Regions from separate parts of the Homo sapiens genome. Here region 1 is linked to region 2. The links come from fine-mapping of genetic effects on gene expression. Tissue or cell type: sigmoid colon. Region 2 holds a variant in brackets; the other region holds the start of a gene. All regions are shown on one strand. Distances are from middle to middle.

Region 1 (8,000 bases), 77 kb after region 2:
ACATGAGGAGCTTCCTGAAAGCAGAGAAAAAGGATAACATGAGTTACACAGTTCTCATCGACGTGGGGGGGAAAAAGAGTATGCAGTGATAGCCGCAGAGTACCGCCCTTTCCTGACACAAACTCTAACTCAATTACATTTTATTAATGCCTTCTAGTACAAGGGCACTGCAGACTAGGAAATGCCAAGTAACATGGGATAAGGTCTTCAATGTATTTCTGCAGAATTTAAAATTATTTTATTCAAAAGAAGAATTACTTATACCTAAGAGGCCAACATCACACTACTAGTAAGTTAACAGCTTGCAGAAGCTGTTTTTTTTTCCGGTAACCTAGTTTAATATGGAAAGTGAACTTAGAAGACGTAAGAACAGAAAGTGAAACTTCATGGAGGTTTCTCAAACATTTGAAGCATGATTTCAGCAGCTAACAGACTGCAGCCAATTTAAGCTTTAAAAAACTTAAGTGAGACTACCATGCAAATAAAATGTTGCATACTTCTTTTCCCACTTACCTTACTTGAAGCTCCAAATGTTGTGTACTTTAAAATAAGTACTAACAAAGGAGACAACAAAAGAAACCTTCTATTAAGAAAATTACAGAATTTGCTTTTTATTTCACTTAGAAAACTAGCCTATTTCCACAACCAAAAAAGCAAGACTAAATTTTCTCAAAATATATAGGAGTTACTACCAAAATAGGTGAGTGTCATGGCCGCTAGAAGATAACGGAGAATACTGCTGCAGAGCACACCAACAAGAGAACATGTGCTTCCATGGTTCTTCTTCAAAAGGCTGTGTGTGTGGTTTTGTCTTCAAATTTAAAATCATCACTGGCCTAATGGCTAAGCCCAGGAAACCTCAATAGGGCATATTTTGTCTTTAAGGAGAAAATTATTGCTTCTAAACTACTGTGAATCCTCTTAAGCTTTTATACAACTCAGTTCTTCTTGAGGTCTATTTTGTTAGTTTCATCAGACTGTAACGGCTTGCAATCATTAGTGAATGACAAATGGGTGTGTCCAGACAATACTCAAGTTGCAAAACCAAAATTAAAGCAACTCTCTGAGCACCCACCAAAAAGAGAGCTAATGTGTCAAAACCAAAAATATAGGATGCTTCACCATAGGTATTACTGTAATTTTCTACAGACTTATCCTTAGGCTATCCATTTCTCAACATTAACTAGCCAGAAACTTCAAATAACAATCTCTTTCTTCTACACTTCTCAGCTAAACATCTGGAAGTTTAGATTCACTACCTCCCAGCTCTTCAGCTCCTTTGCACTCTGGCTTCTACCCTTACACTCCACTGAATGTGAAGTCCCTAACAATCTTTACATTACCAATCCAATAGGTTCCTGACCTGACTCTGCTAAAGCATATGAAAATGCTGCCCATCCTTTCCTTACCTACAACACACCATTTTTTGGACACCACTTCTACCCAATCACCTTCATAATTACCCCTGCCTTTGTTACTCATATAAATGCTAAAGTTTTCGAAGGCTTGTCCTGAGAATTCTCACCTCTTCATTCAGTACTCTTTCTGGGCGGCCTACTTCAAACCACTGCTTCAACTACTGCCTAGATTGAAGCTGCCCAGACTGAGAATGTATTGTAAAACTTAATGCAGGCAGGGCGCAGTGGCTCACACCTGTAATTCCAGCACTCTGGGAGGCCGAGGCGTGAGGGATCACGAGGTCAAGAGATCAAGACCATCCTGGCCAACATGGTGAAACCCCGTATCTACTAAAAATATAAAAATTAGCTGGGCATGGTGGTATGCACCTGTAGTCGCAGCTACTGGGGAGGTTGAGTGAAATGATGCACTGTTCCACCTACTCAATAACTGACAGCCTAGCCTAGAACTCCAGATATATTCAATATCCAACTGCATACAGTGTATCTCTACTCACATATCTGACAGGCACCTCAAAGTAAACATGACCAGAACCCAACGAAGTCCTTCCCTTAAATCTGTTATTTGTTCTATATTCCCTTGTTGATGACATTACCATACATTCAATTTTCAAACCAGTAACCTAGGAATTATCCTATACGCTCCTTCTCCCTCAGCCGCAATCTCTGAGCTCCAGAGCCTACCCCTTAATTACATCTCTACTTTCTTCTCAGTGCAACCGCCACTGCCTTAGTTCAGTACATTTTCATCATTTGCCTGGATTACTGAAGAAGCCTAAATGATCTATTTCTTCTTTGATCGCCATCAATTCCTCCTCCAAAATGCTGCCAGAGGCCAAAGCCCCAAACTGGACTTCGAAAGCACAAATGACTCCTCCTCCAATGTTGGGATAAAATTCAAATTGCTGAGCTCAACACACACAAGGCCCGCGATGATCCAGCTTCCACATCATCTCTTTCCTCCACACTTACCTCCCTTGACTTGCTCTTCCTAAAACCATTCATGGTGACTGGTATTCCCTGCCTTTATGGAAGCTCTTCCACTGGCCTTGGAAACCCACCCTCCTACCTCTGCCCGGTACTTAACTGTGAATACACATCAGACTTACCTCAGGAACTTAAAAAAAAAAGTAGAAAAGATCCTATGGATAAAATTGTTTCCCTTTTAAAGAACTCCACTAAGATTCGAAGAGAAAGCTGGATTTGAGAACAACCAGTGTGCAAGCTCTTCCTGAGTGTCATCACGTCTGGGGGGGGGGCCTGTCCGACCCGTCCTCTCTTCCAGTCTATCTCTGATGACCTTCTTCTCTGTCCCTTTAGGACTCTGCACATGTTTCCATCATTGCACTTACCTTGGTGCTCTGAACTCCTGCTAAAAAAAAAAATTATTACCTGGACAAATGGCCTACAGAAAAGTGATCGTCTCAGCTGGGCTTAGTTGTGAACAAACACGGATTTGCATTCATATATGCCCAGACTCTGGCCCCAAAAGAACATTTCTGAAATTAAAAAACAAAAAACGAAATTGGTAAGTGGCATTTATACTCTATATCCCATCTGAGCCTGGTATCGATCCTATTACAGACAGATACTGCTGGCTGATGAGGAAGCCCAGATAGGTTAGACAACTTGGCTGTGGACTTCCAGGAAACAGCAGAACTGCAATTCTGACTCCCAGTTCCACAAGGGGCTGTCCCCACTCACGGGGACAGCTAGGCACCGAGCCAAAAATCCCCCAAGTTATTAGCCCGCGCAGGTAACATCAATCCTAGGATCCTCAGCTGTGTCACTTATCAAATACCACACTCGGCCTTCTCCTTGTGGAGCTCTTTTCCCTCAAGGCAGTCACCCCCGTTTCACTTGGGTCGTGCAAATTGCTGGGCACATCCTTAGATCCCCAGAAGTTGGGGAGGACGGACAAAGTCCTGTGGCCAGCAGCAAAAGCTCCAGCCCCTCCAAGTGGGAGAAACAGACTCTCCTCCAAACGAAGGGACCGGCCGGGCGCGGCGGCTCGGAGGATCCCTGGAGCAGCTGAGCTCAGCCTGGGAAACACAGCCAGGCCCTGTCTCTGCAACACATTTTGTTTTTAATTAGCCGGGCGTGGTGACGCGCGCCTATGGTCCCAGTTACTCGGGGGGATGAGGCGGAAGGATCGCTGGAGCCCAGGAAGACGAGGTTGCTGCGAGCCGTGACTGTTCCACTGCACTTCAGCCTGGGTGACAGAGCGAGACCCCGTCTCAAAAAAAAAAAAAAAAGAAAAAAGAAAAAAAAACAAAGGGAGGGACTCCAGGCGAGAGGCAGACGAGCGTGTGGAGGGAACCGACACTTTCCACCCCGAGACCTCCCGCTCAGCCCCAAGGAAACTACGCAGTATCCACACCAAAAACAGCTCACACGAGACCGCAGTGTAGACAACGGAAGGACAGGGGGTCGCAGCGGCCGGGTCCAGCGCGCAGGAAGGCAACAGGCGGCCGCCAGCCGTCGAGGGGTGCTCCCGCCCCCGCACCGAGGGAAGCGGCCGAGCCCGCGCCGACTCTTCCCCCATCCGCCCACCGGGACCTAGGCGCCGCGATGGTTCCCCGAAGCGGCCCTGCAAGCACAAGCCGCGCCTGCGCTCACGCCCGCCCGACCTACGGCCTCCAGCCCGCCGCTACCCTCACCGCTCTCTGGCTGGCGTCGGCCTCTAGCCCACCTCCATACCGGGCCCCGCTCTAGGCCACCAGCGGAAGTGCGGGCCCGCAGCCGCAGCTACCAACCAGCTGTTGCCGCGAGGTAGGCCCCGCCCCCGCGCTGAGTCGGCCGGCCGCAGGCCCCGCCCCGGCCGCTGCTTTCTGGTTTTGGTGCCCCCCAGGGGGCGGGGCATGGGAAGAGCGGCCGCGGTGCACCGCCCACGCCGGGCGCTGGCGTCACGTCCGGGCAGCTGGGGCCCGACCAATCCCGAGTCCCCGTCAGGGTGGACGGGGAGAGTTTGCCGCGGAACCTTGACCTCGGCCCCGCCCGGGGCTTCCTGCGGGTGGGGCGGCTCCGGGATGAGCTCTGCTGCGGGTGGGGTCAGCCCTTACCCGCTGGCCATTTCCGTTCCCTCTTTTTTCTTCTTTTTTCCACGCCTCAGGTGTCTCAGCGGATGTACTACGGTGACGAAGTAATTTTTCTCTTTAGATTTCCTTTAAAGACCTGAAATGTAAATTACATAAACGTGTAATTTCGGAGGAATATGTGTATATCCTTTATATTACAAGAAAGGGAGACCTTAGGTCTTGCGAACAATGCGCGCGATGCGCAACACAGCAGAGTAAATCCCTCGCTGGTGCGGTGGCTCCCGCTTCTAATCCCACCACTTTGGGAGGCCCAGGCGGGAGGCTCGCTTGAGCCCGGAGTTCAGAGACCAGCCTGTGCAACATAGCGAGACACCCGTATGTACAAAAAAAAATTAAAACTCAGCCACCGAGGCCGGGCGCGGTGGCTCACGCCTGTAATCCCAGCACTTTGGGAGGCCGAGGCGGGTGGATCACCTGAGGTCAGGAGTTCGAGACCAGCCTGACCAACATGGTGAAACTCCGTCTCTACTAAAAATAAAAAGATTACCTGGGCGTGGTGGCGGGTGCCTGTAATCCCAGCTACTCAGGAGGCTGAGGCATGAGAATGGCTTGAACCCGGGAGGCAGAGGTTGCAGTGAGCCGAGATCGCACCACTGCACTCCAGCCTGGGCAAAGGAGCGAGACTCTCTCTCCGGAAAAAAAAAAAAAAAAAAAAAAATTAGCACCTGTGGGCCCAGCTTGTTGGGAGGCTGAGGCAGGGGGTGGATATCCATTGAGACCGGGAGATCGAGACTGCAGTGAGCCGTGACTGTGCCACTACACTCCAGGCTGGGGAACAAAGCAAGACCCTGTCTCAGAAAAGTCTATAAATAAATAAAAATGAGTAAAATCCACTGGAAAGCCTATCCCCCCCCTTTTTTGTTTTTGAGATGGAGTCGCGCTCTGTCACCCAAGCTGAAGTGCAGTGGCGCAGTCTCGGCTCACTGCAACCTCCGCCTCCTGGGTTCAAATGATTCTCCTGCATCAGCCTCCCGAGTAGCTGGGAGTACAGGCGTGTGCCACACGCCCGGCTAATGTTCATGTTTTTAGTAGAGATGGGGTTTCACCATGTTGGCCAGGATGGTCTCAAACTCCAACCTCAAGTGATCCGCCCCGCCTCGACCTCCCAAAGTGCTGGGATTACAAGCGTGATCCACCGCACCCGGCCCCTACCCCCTTTTAGTAACGCCTACTACTGACCACGATGATGCAGCGTCACCGTCTTACAGTTAATAGAGGAGACAGGGAAATTAAACAATTAGTAGTGGTGACTCAGGCGATAAAAAAAGAGGCTGAGATGGGCCAGCTTGGGAAAAGTGGGTCAGATACAGCCTTACCGAGGAGAACCCTGGCCCGAGGATGAGGAGCAAGCCCAGGGGAACACTGCGGGAAAGGCCCAAGGCGAAGGAAGATTCTAGCAAGGGGGCGTGGCTTGTTGGAAGGGCGTGGTGGCCGTTATGCAAATTTAACCGTCTAAGGAGCAGCACGCGTTGACCGTTATTTTCCTCTTTTCTACTTCTTCATCCTGTCAAATATTTTGAACATATTTTGTTTTATCATATAACACTAATATACCAACACAGCCTTTATACCACCACAGTCATAAAATATAATTTTTTTTTTTTTTTGAGACGAGTCTCGCTCTGTCGCCCAGGCTGGAGTGCAGGGGCGCCATCTCGGCTCACTGCAAGCTCCGCCTCCCGGGTTCACGCCATTCTCCTGTCTCAGCCTCCCGAGTAGCTGGGACTACAGCCACGTGCCACCACGCCTGGCTAATTTTTTGTATTTTTAGTAGAGACAGGGTTTCACCGTGTTAGCCAGGATGGTCTCGATCTCCTGACCTCGTGATCCGCCCGCCTCTGCCTCCCAAAGTGCTGGGATTACAGGCTTGAGCCACCGCACCCGGCCATAAAATATAATTTTTATCATTTTTTTTAATGGAGAAAAGTGCCATGAAGGTAACTTGTGCCCAGAGCCCACAAAAGTCATAATTTCCTCCTGTCCCTGAAGCCCTCTGTAGGCCTTATCATCTTCCCACATTTTTTGTCTGTGAACAACATATAAATTTTACATGCTTTTTAACTCTGTATATGGAATTATGGAGGATGTATTTTTCTGCAAATTGCTTTTTACACTCAATGTTATGTCCTGAGACTCATTGATTCAAGGTGCATTCAGGAATTGTTGAGCCCAAAACTTACACAACCTATAGAATGTTAAACAGAAGCACTGCAATAGACTTTGTAAATATAAAATTAGAAATGAAAATTAATACTTATTTGGAATGAATAAATAAGTACAAATTACAAACTTCTAAAGCTGATAAAACCATAAACATGGCCAGGCGCAATGGCTCAGGCCTGTAATCCCAGCACTTTGGGAAGCTGAGGTGGGCAGATCACCTGAGGTCAGGAGTTCAAGACCAGCCTAGCCAACATGGTGAAACCCGGTCTCTACTAAAAATACAAAAATTAGCCAGGCTTAGTGGTGCATGCCCGTAGTTCCAGCTACTTGGGAGGCTGAGACAGGAGAATGGCTTGAACCCGAGAGGCGAGGCGACAGAGTGAGACCTCATCTCCAAAAATAAATAAATAAATAAATAAATAAATAAATAAATAAATAAATAAATAAATAAAAAGACTGGGAAGTATGAGGCCTCCAGTATCGTTCTTTTTCAAAATTGTTTTAGCTACTTAAGGTCCCTTGCTATTCCATGTGAATATTTAGAATTGGCTTGTCCCGTTTCTGCAAATAAATAAGTACAAGCAGTTGGAATTTTTATAGGGATTGAATTGTATTTTTAGATACATCTGGGGAATCAATTGACACCTTAACAATATTAAGTATAGCAGGTTCTCTAATAAGATCATTTTGTTCAATGTGGTTTTGTTATAACATTGATGAGAAAAAAAAAATCCATTCCTGCTCAAGGCTTTTTTTTGAGACGGAATCTCCCTCTGTAGCCCAGGCTCTGGAGTGCAGTGATGCGATCTTGGCTCACTGCAAGCTCCGCCTCCCAGGTTTCGGTTCAAGCAATTCTCCTGCCTCAGCCTCCTGAGTAGCTGGGATTATAGGCACGCACCACCACGCCCAGCTAATTTTTGTATTTTTAGTAGACACGGAGTTTCAGCATGTTGCCCAGGCTGGTCTTGAACTCCTGACCTCGTGATCCGCCTGCCTCAGCCTCCCAAAGTGCTGGGATTACAGGTGTGAGCCACCGTGCCTGGCCCCGAGGCCACTTTGTGTGTGGAGTTTGCCCCTTCTCCCCATGTCTGTGTGGGTTTCCTCCAGGTACTCCAATTTCCTTCCCGATTCCAAAGATGTGCCAGTTAGGTTGATTGGCATGTCTACATTGTCCTAGCCTGAGTGAGCATGGGTGTGTGTGTGAGTGTATACCCTGCAAAGGGATGGCATCTTGTCCAGAGTTGGCACCCACCTGGCACCAGGAAAGATTCTGGCCATCCGCGATCCTGAACTGGAATGAGTGGGTAGATTATTACCTTGT
Region 2 (8,261 bases):
GATTTTCATATGTTGAAGCAATCTTGCATTCCTGGGATAAATCCCACTTGGTCTTGATGTATAAATCCTTGTAATAACCTGCTGAATTCAGTTTGTCACTATTTTGTTGAGGATTTTTGTATCTAGTCATAAAGGATTTGGATCTGTAGTTTTCTTGTGATACTTTCCCTTGGCTTTGGTATCAGTGTAATACTGGCTTCAAAAAATGAATCTGAGTGTTCTATTTATTGGAAGCATGTGAGAATGACTTGTGTTCATTCTTCTTTTAATATTTGATAGAATTCACCAGCTTAGCTTGGTTCTGGGCTTTTCATTATTGGGAAATGTTTCATTATTTGTTATAAAGGTCTGATTTTTTCTTTTTTTTTTTTTTTTGAGATGGAGTCTCGCTCTGTCACCCAGGCTGGAGTGATGCAGTGGGGCAATCTCAGCTCACTGCAGCCTCCGCCTCCTGGGTTCAAGCGATTTACCTACCTCAGCCTTCCGAGTAGCAGGGACTACGGGAGCGCGCCACCACGCCTGGCTAATTTTTGTATTTTTTTTCAGTAGAGATGGGGTTTCACCATGTTGCCCAGGCTGGTCTCAACCTCCTGACCTCAGGTGATCTGCCCGCCTCAGCCTCCCAAAGTGCTGGGATTACAGGTGTGAGCCACCACACCCAGCCTACAGGTCTGATTTTCTATTGTTTTCTAGATTCGATTTTGGTAGTCTGTGTGCTTCTAAGTTAAGATGATTTTAAGGTTATGGATCTCCAATATTTAATCTTTAATTTTACTGCTGAGGTAAGAAGGAAACAAAAACATGATTTTCATTCTATACATAAAGGCAATACAAGGGTTAAATCATTTATTTAAAGTGAAATGTTACTTTTAGTCTTGCTAGAACAAGAATTCAGATGAACAAGTCATGGAACTAAAAGGTAAAGACCTGGCAAGTTTCTTAGTCAATTCCACTGCCAAGGAGAATGTTGACATTCCAACTGCCAGGAAGTAACCTGTCTACCCAGGAGCCACACAGCACAAGTCTATGAAAGCCAGCAGCATCCCAGCTTCCTCGTGCCGTATCACCAATTTGCACAGACCACTCCTTAAGAGTTTCCCTTTTCTTCTTTCCTTCTATATCCTCTCATTCTAATTCAACAAGAAAATTGGAAATATTTATAAAAATGCCTCACCCTTTTCTATCGAACTCTTTGTCCAAATCCTTCTGAATCATCGTCTTCTGGGCCTTGTAATGAGTTATTATGCCAATGTTTCGAAAACTAACATCCTTTCTTTTGTCTTTAATAAGCTTAATTATTTCCATCACCAGTTTTATTTCTTGAACATTTATATATGAGCTAAACAAGATGGAAAAAGAAAACACAGTGTTATCAAAACTAATAGCAGGCTAATTGCTAACTTAAGTTCCACTGAGTTTGTTTCCCATTATAGTAAAGGGCAGGCAGATAGGCTTCATCTTTTATTCAGCTAGCAGTGACTCCAAGAGGCTGTTACAATGACCATTAATATGGTATATATGAATAAATGTGAAAATACTATGGTAAATATGAATACATGTGAAATGCCCAGTGAAAAATGAAGTTGTAGAGAGAAAAGAGTTTGAAATCAACTGAAGTTTAGGCACCACTTTCTTCATCTGTTGAAACAGGGAGAGCAGTATTAAGAACAGCAGTATTAATAAGAACAAAGATGTGAATAAGAGATAGCTAACATGAATTAAGGATTAACTATCTTCCGAACACTGAGAAAATGCTTTACATGTATGATCTTCCTTGTCCCTCACCACTGGCTGCATACAACACACACCACACAACCGAGCAGCTGCCATCCACACAGACTCAATGTGAAGGATGTGTCCCACTTGACCCCAGTTGAACAACATGGGGCCCTGGAGCAGGTTCATGTCCTCTTTGTAGTCCTCAGCAGCCTCATATCCTGCACTCTCAACCCCTCCTGAAAACACATGCTCCCTCATGACCATACCGGACCCAAAATGCACCAAGACCAGGGGATGCACTGCCCCATCCCTTGATTCCTGAGGCTACCTTACCCGCCTTGCTTTACGAGCCTTAAATACCCATTCTCCTAACTTTGAGACTTACTAAATGGACAACCCAATCAGCTAGCGATCTCTTCCATCCCTGAAATCCTCATGATGCTCTGCGGCTTAACTCGCAATCCTCTGCTCTCCTCCAAGAGGCCTCATTAAAACCTTTAGGCTGCAGTCCCTCCAGCACTACAATCCCATGGCCAACAACTCCTCTGTATGTGTAACCTCTTCAATGAGTGTTCCCTACTTCCACCTCTGTATCTTATCTAACGCCTGATTCTCGCCTGAGGACGCCACCTGCTCTGCAGCCATCCCATGATGTAGAAGTGGGATTTGTGTTTCCTCCTACTTCATGACAGAGTGGCACTTGTATCCGTGCCAACAAATGCTGCCCCTAGACCATTCCTCCCCTACTCTCTCACAAGAATCCCCAGCTCCTCTGACATTGCTGCTTCTAGCAACACCACTCCTCTTTGCTGTCATATACAGACCACCTGAACACATGCCCTTATTCACAACCCAATACCATCCAACCTCTGTCACTACTTCCTTCCTCCCTTTCACATTTTCATTCAACTGAATTTATACTTAGCCTTCACAGTACTTAACCCAACTGGAATAACTGCTTACCCAGGTGATGACCTGCTGAAGGCCTGTCTTCCCATGAGACCACCATCTTGCAATGGGCACGTCTGTTTCCCTCACTGCTGTGAGCTCAACAAGTATCTACTCAAGCACTTGCTTATGACATTAGGTAATATTATCCCCATTATACAGAAAAAAGAAGCATCAACTTAAGTGAACATGACTGTGCCCTGACACTAGGCAGAGAGATGTGTATAGGAAATGTATTTAACAGAAATATGAATGCAAATCATGTAACAATTCTGGGACTATCAGAGGACTGAGGCAAGAGGAAAACATACTCATTATCCCGTCTTTCTGAACCATCTCCAACATCAAACACAAGGTATGGCTGAAATGGCCAATCTGATGAACATCGAATGGCTTCTGTCTGTCTGTAAAAAAAAAAAAGCAGTCAACATTCAGAATAAAGTCAAGATTTAAGAAAATATCTTGGTATTACTACAATTTTTTCTGTGTGGTGATGTGGGCTGGGGCAAGTAAGGGGATAGCAGGAATATTCTTTTCTAGACGTGTATTAGTGAAAGGTACAAAACAAATTCTATTTCTTTCCTGGTGCTGGGAGAGGTGTCTATATCATTAAAATATAACAAGTATGATTGGAAAGACACTCATAATAGAGTAAGCCACAGAATACTATGTTAAGTATGGTCCCACATTTTTCCTTCAAAAATTTAAAAAGTAAAAAAAGATATGCATAGTAAAAGGACTGAAACTTGGCCAGGTGCGGTGACTCTCGCCTGTAATCCCAGCACTTTGGGAGACCAAGGCGGGTGGATTGCTTGAGCTCAGGAGTTCGAAAGCAGCCTGGGCAACATAGCGAAACCCCGTTTCTACAAAAAGAAAAATACAAAAATTAGCCAGGCATGGTGGTGACTGAGTGTAGTCCCAGCTACTCAGGAGGCTGAGGCAGGTGGATTGATTGAGCCTGGGAGGTCGAAGCTGCAGTGAGCCAGGACTGTGTGCCACTGCACTCATCCTGTGTGAGTGACAGAATGAGACCCTGTCTTCAAAAAAAAAAAAAAAAAAAAAAAGGACTGCTGAAAGTGGATATACCAAAATGTTACCAGTGATTATTTCTGGGTAGTATAAATATAGGTGACTTTTTCCCCTTTTCTTTTTTATGTGCTTTGCTGTATTCAACATGATGGCTATTATAACAGGACAAAATTATTAACCCTTCATGATTTATGCTTTTTATGACAAGACCTAAGACGACAGTAAAATGTCTATTCTTCATAAGTAGCTAAACTACAACAAAATAAGGTCACAAACAATAAGGGGAACTCACCTATTTGTTTTTAAGTTTCTGTTATAAACATAATTAGAAGGGAAGAGGCATATGTCTGGATGCATCCTGTACTGAACAGTGAGCTGTAGAATGGGCAGCCTGCTGATCATGTTGTGTTCTACATTCTCTTCCAGCAGTCTGCAGAAGCGAGCCATCATTGACTGGTCGTAGCCATACTCCTGTGCTTTCTGTGAGGGGCAAAATAAAGCAACAGTT[T/C]CCAAGAATTCATTTATATCTTTCCCACTATTATAAACACAATTACTGAGATCTAATACGTATATGGCAACGTTCAGGTAGCATAAGATTACCAACCACAGCTTCAGAGAAAAAAGGTGTTTCTGACTCTGAGCCTCAAAATGCCATGAATCTTTTTTTTTTTTTTTTTTTTTTTTTTTTTTTTTTGGAGACACAGTCTCGCTCTGTCACCCAGGCTGGAGTGCAGTGGCGTGATCTCAGCTCACTGCATCCTTCACCTCCCAGGTTCAAGCGATTCTCATGTCTCTGGCCTCCTGAGTAGCTGGGATAACAGGAATGAGCCACCACACCTGGCCAAAATGCCATGAATCTTGAATATATGTGGAGGTCTTTTCTACTCATATACTGCTAATGAAAGAGATATGATCTTGTGAAAGACAACTGATGCTATTTTGATGCTACAAGACGCCACCCAAAAAAACCAGTAATAAAGGAAATGTAACACAGATTTTAACAATTATTTCTGGGGGTACACCCTCACAGACAGACATATTGAATGCCACTGTAAACAAGCCTTTTGAAGACAAAATTCTTCATTCATCCATCTAATATGTACTAAGCATCTATAATTTGAAGTGCTAAGACCACTAGAGTGAATAAGATGAAGTCTCACAGGACTTAATTTCCAGTGAAGGAAACAGACTCGACTTATGTGTTGACCATCCCTAATCCAAAAATCCAAAATACTCCAATGAGCATATCCTTCGAGCGTGAACTTTAAGCATAAAGTCAGCACTTGGGAAGTTTCAGATGGTGAAGCATTTCAAATTTTTGAATTAGGAACGCCGAAGCTGTGCTAAATGGATTTCACAAACCAAATAATGGGTTATATTCTGCAATCTGAAAAACAGTGACCTAAGTGACAAGTGGGATAAACTGTCTTGATGTTACCACAGTTGTGCCTTGGGATCTACTTTCCGATGGCAGCAACACAGAAAGTTTCAAAAAGGGGAGGGGGAGGGATAGCATTAGGAGATACACCTAATGTAAATGACGAGTTAATGGGTGCAGCACACCAACATGGCACATGTATACATATGTAACAAACCTGCATGTTGTGAACATGTACCCTAGAACTTAAAGTATAATTAAAAAAGAAAAGTTTCAAAAAGTACTTTATCTTAAATAACCCTGAAGTAAAAATGTGCTGAAAACTTCACTAAGATGATGGAATCTTCATGAGTGATGTGAAAGATACTGGCACTGAAGACGTGCAAAGCCTGAATAAACTTGTTTCACAAACTATGGGAGTGGAAGAAAGGCATTACTTCTTAACCTATTTATATGTGTGATTTTAAACAGGTTTGTGAAAGCATAAAATAATTATTAATAGATACATGCCAATTTTCCCTAAATCCTCAAAAGTTTATCTGCGTTAGCTCACAAAACCTAATTTTTAATCTTTTCTTTGGGGAAACAGAAAAGGAAGTTATGTAAGGTAACGCATCTACCTCCAGACAAAACCTTAGTCCATTCTACAAATGACATAGATTTATTAATATATATTCTGACATGGGAGGATGTCCCTGATTTACTGATTGAAAAAAAAACCAATTCTGCACAGAATGATTTTGCCACCTTTAAACAAAACCAAACCCACGTACATATACACATAAACATATACATGTATACAAACCATATACCACTTTTTAGTAACTGACTCACTGTTAACCCCTAGAATACAAACACCATAAGGGCAGGGATTTTGTCTGTTTTCTTCACTGTCATAACCCCAGCCCCTAAACAGTGCCTGAATTATGGTGGCACTCAATATATACATACTGAAAAAGACGAATAAACACACAAATGCCTAGCAATATCTGTTAAAAATACTCACTTTCACTGTAATTACCACTAGAAACAGGTGGTCAAAAAAGGCACCTTATGGAAATGAACTTTGTAATTATTTTCTCAAAATAGCCTGTTTTATTTGTACAACAATTTAAACAGCACAAATGGATTTTTTTTTTCTAATTTTTGTTGTTTTTATCAATCATTGAAGTAGGCAGTAAAGTTGAGGCCCATTAACAATCTCTCTTTTCACTATATGCCAAGGCCCTTCAATGAAATCCTGCATCATTTAAAGAAATGGGATACAGAATTTGCTCTTCATTATTCTCCGTGAACAAAGTTACCTGCAGCAGTTCTTCCCTACACACACGGGTTTTCACTGGGTGACGGGTGTGCTTCTGGGCCACACTCTAACATGATCATGTACCTGCGCTCAAATGTCATACAAAGAACTGCACTATCATTCTGAATAATTCCGAAATCAAAAACCACTAACGATAACCACCTGCATTCATTCCAAGCTTCAACAAAAATGCTTTGAAAATGATCTGTTCTCTAGGATTATTTATGAAGCCACTGCTCAATTATCTGTATAAATAATCTATGTTATTAGTAAAAAATACACATTTCATTAAATTTCAAAACCTCTTCAGATTACTTCAAAACATCTACTGGATCCTGATTCTAATGTGCATTTCCAGGAGAATCTTTCATGAGATTAAAAAAAACCAACAGAGAAGAGTAGACTACAGTCTGGTTCTTCTCTTCCCAAAGTCAGAGCTTGTAATTGAGTCTTTTTTTCCCCTGTACCTTCACTTTCAGATGATGTGAAGGGCACAGACATGTTCTTGTATTAACACTAGAATACCAAATTCTAAAAATGGAAATGTACTCCAAAATTAATTTAACTTCATGTTTTCCTCAATTTGTACATATTTAAACAAAAATGAGGAGGGTAGGATTCTTCTCTTTATTTCTGAAGTTTTTCTTTTATTATTGTTTTGGTGTTTGTATGATTAAAATAAATCAGATTCAGCTCTTAAGAGACTTAAAAAAGGCAGACATGCACACTGCCTTTCCCAAAGCTTGGTTTCCATGGCACGTCATCCATCTAGGCTTCCAAGTCCCTGCCACACTGCTTCTGCCACACATACACAGAAGAACAACTATGACCAAATGGACATTTTTAGGCATTTTTTAAAATTTATTAAGTGCTTCTCTTTTCTTAGTTACTGCTTACTTTTCCCTCCAAATTAAGAGGCCAATCCAAGAAAGATGTCTCTCCCTCCTGAAAACAAAAATTTTAAAAAGCCCCTTCCATTTTAAAGCAATCTGAACATAAAAAACTTACCATAGAGATGACTGTCGGAGGGAGCTGCTTAGGATCTCCTACTAGGATGAGCTTATTGCAGCGATGGATGAGTGGAGTAAGAGTCTCAATTTCACAAGACTGTCCAGCCTTGGTAAGATACAGAAGAGAGAGGCAGTCTTAACAATCTTTGCTATTTATCCATATAGTTTATCTGATTAAAGTTCTAACCATTCAGAAAAGTATCACACTTCTCCTGCACCAAATATCAAAAATACAAATTTTCCCTGAAAACAAAAAAACAAAACAAAACCAACAAAATAAACCCTCCAGGCTGTGTGCAGTGGCTAACACACGTAATGCCAGCACTTTGGGAGGCCGAGGTGGGTGGATCACCTGAGGTCCGGAGTTCAAGACCAGCCTGGCCAACATGGCGCAACCAAAAAAATTAGCTGGGCGTGGTGGCAAGTGCCTGTAATCCCAGCTACTTGGGAGGCTGAGGCAGGAGAACTGCTTGAACCCAGGAGGCAGAGGTTGCAGTGAGCCGAGATCACATCACTGCACTCCGGTCTGGGTGAGTGCAGACTCCGTCTCTAAAAAAAAAAAAAAAAAAAGCAAGACTCCGTCTCAAAAAAAACAATAAATAAATAAAAAGTAAACTCTCCAAACATGTCTAAAAAAAAAATCAAACTTGTATTTTTGAAGTCAGCCACCAACGGGGCCACTACCACTTGGGAACCAGCCGTAAGTTCAGAAGGCCATGCACATCCTAGATGCGTGCTTTTTGTTCCTGCTGGGCATGAGCCTGAAAAATTTTTCTCCTTTAAAGTCCTTTTAAAACTTTATTTTAAATTTTTTATTTATTTTTTAACTTATTTTTTTTTTTTTTGAGAGAGAGAGTCTCACTCTGTCACCCAG

The links. PIP is the estimated chance that this variant, and not a neighbour inherited with it, causes the effect.
Region 1: it holds the start of SETX, and the variant in region 2 is fine-mapped to the expression of SETX in sigmoid colon (GTEx, PIP 0.99).

What each region holds. Positions count from the first base shown.
Region 1 is chr9:132,350,839-132,358,838 of GRCh38, forward strand. SETX (senataxin) reads right to left here and starts at 4,148. Exons shown (of 26, transcript NM_015046.7): 1 at 4,079-4,148; 2 at 2,811-2,917. RefSeq lists enhancers at 355-404, 3,412-3,913, 3,733-4,932, 3,914-4,413 and silencers at 3,798-4,007, 4,058-4,447.
Region 2 is chr9:132,274,082-132,282,342 of GRCh38, forward strand. SETX (senataxin) reads right to left here. Exons shown (of 26, transcript NM_015046.7): 20 at 7,386-7,493; 21 at 3,989-4,176; 22 at 2,979-3,071; 23 at 1,175-1,339. Among named protein-coding and RNA genes, the nearest start is that of SETX, 77 kb to the right of the region's middle. The variant T/C (reference allele first, on the strand shown) is at 4,205.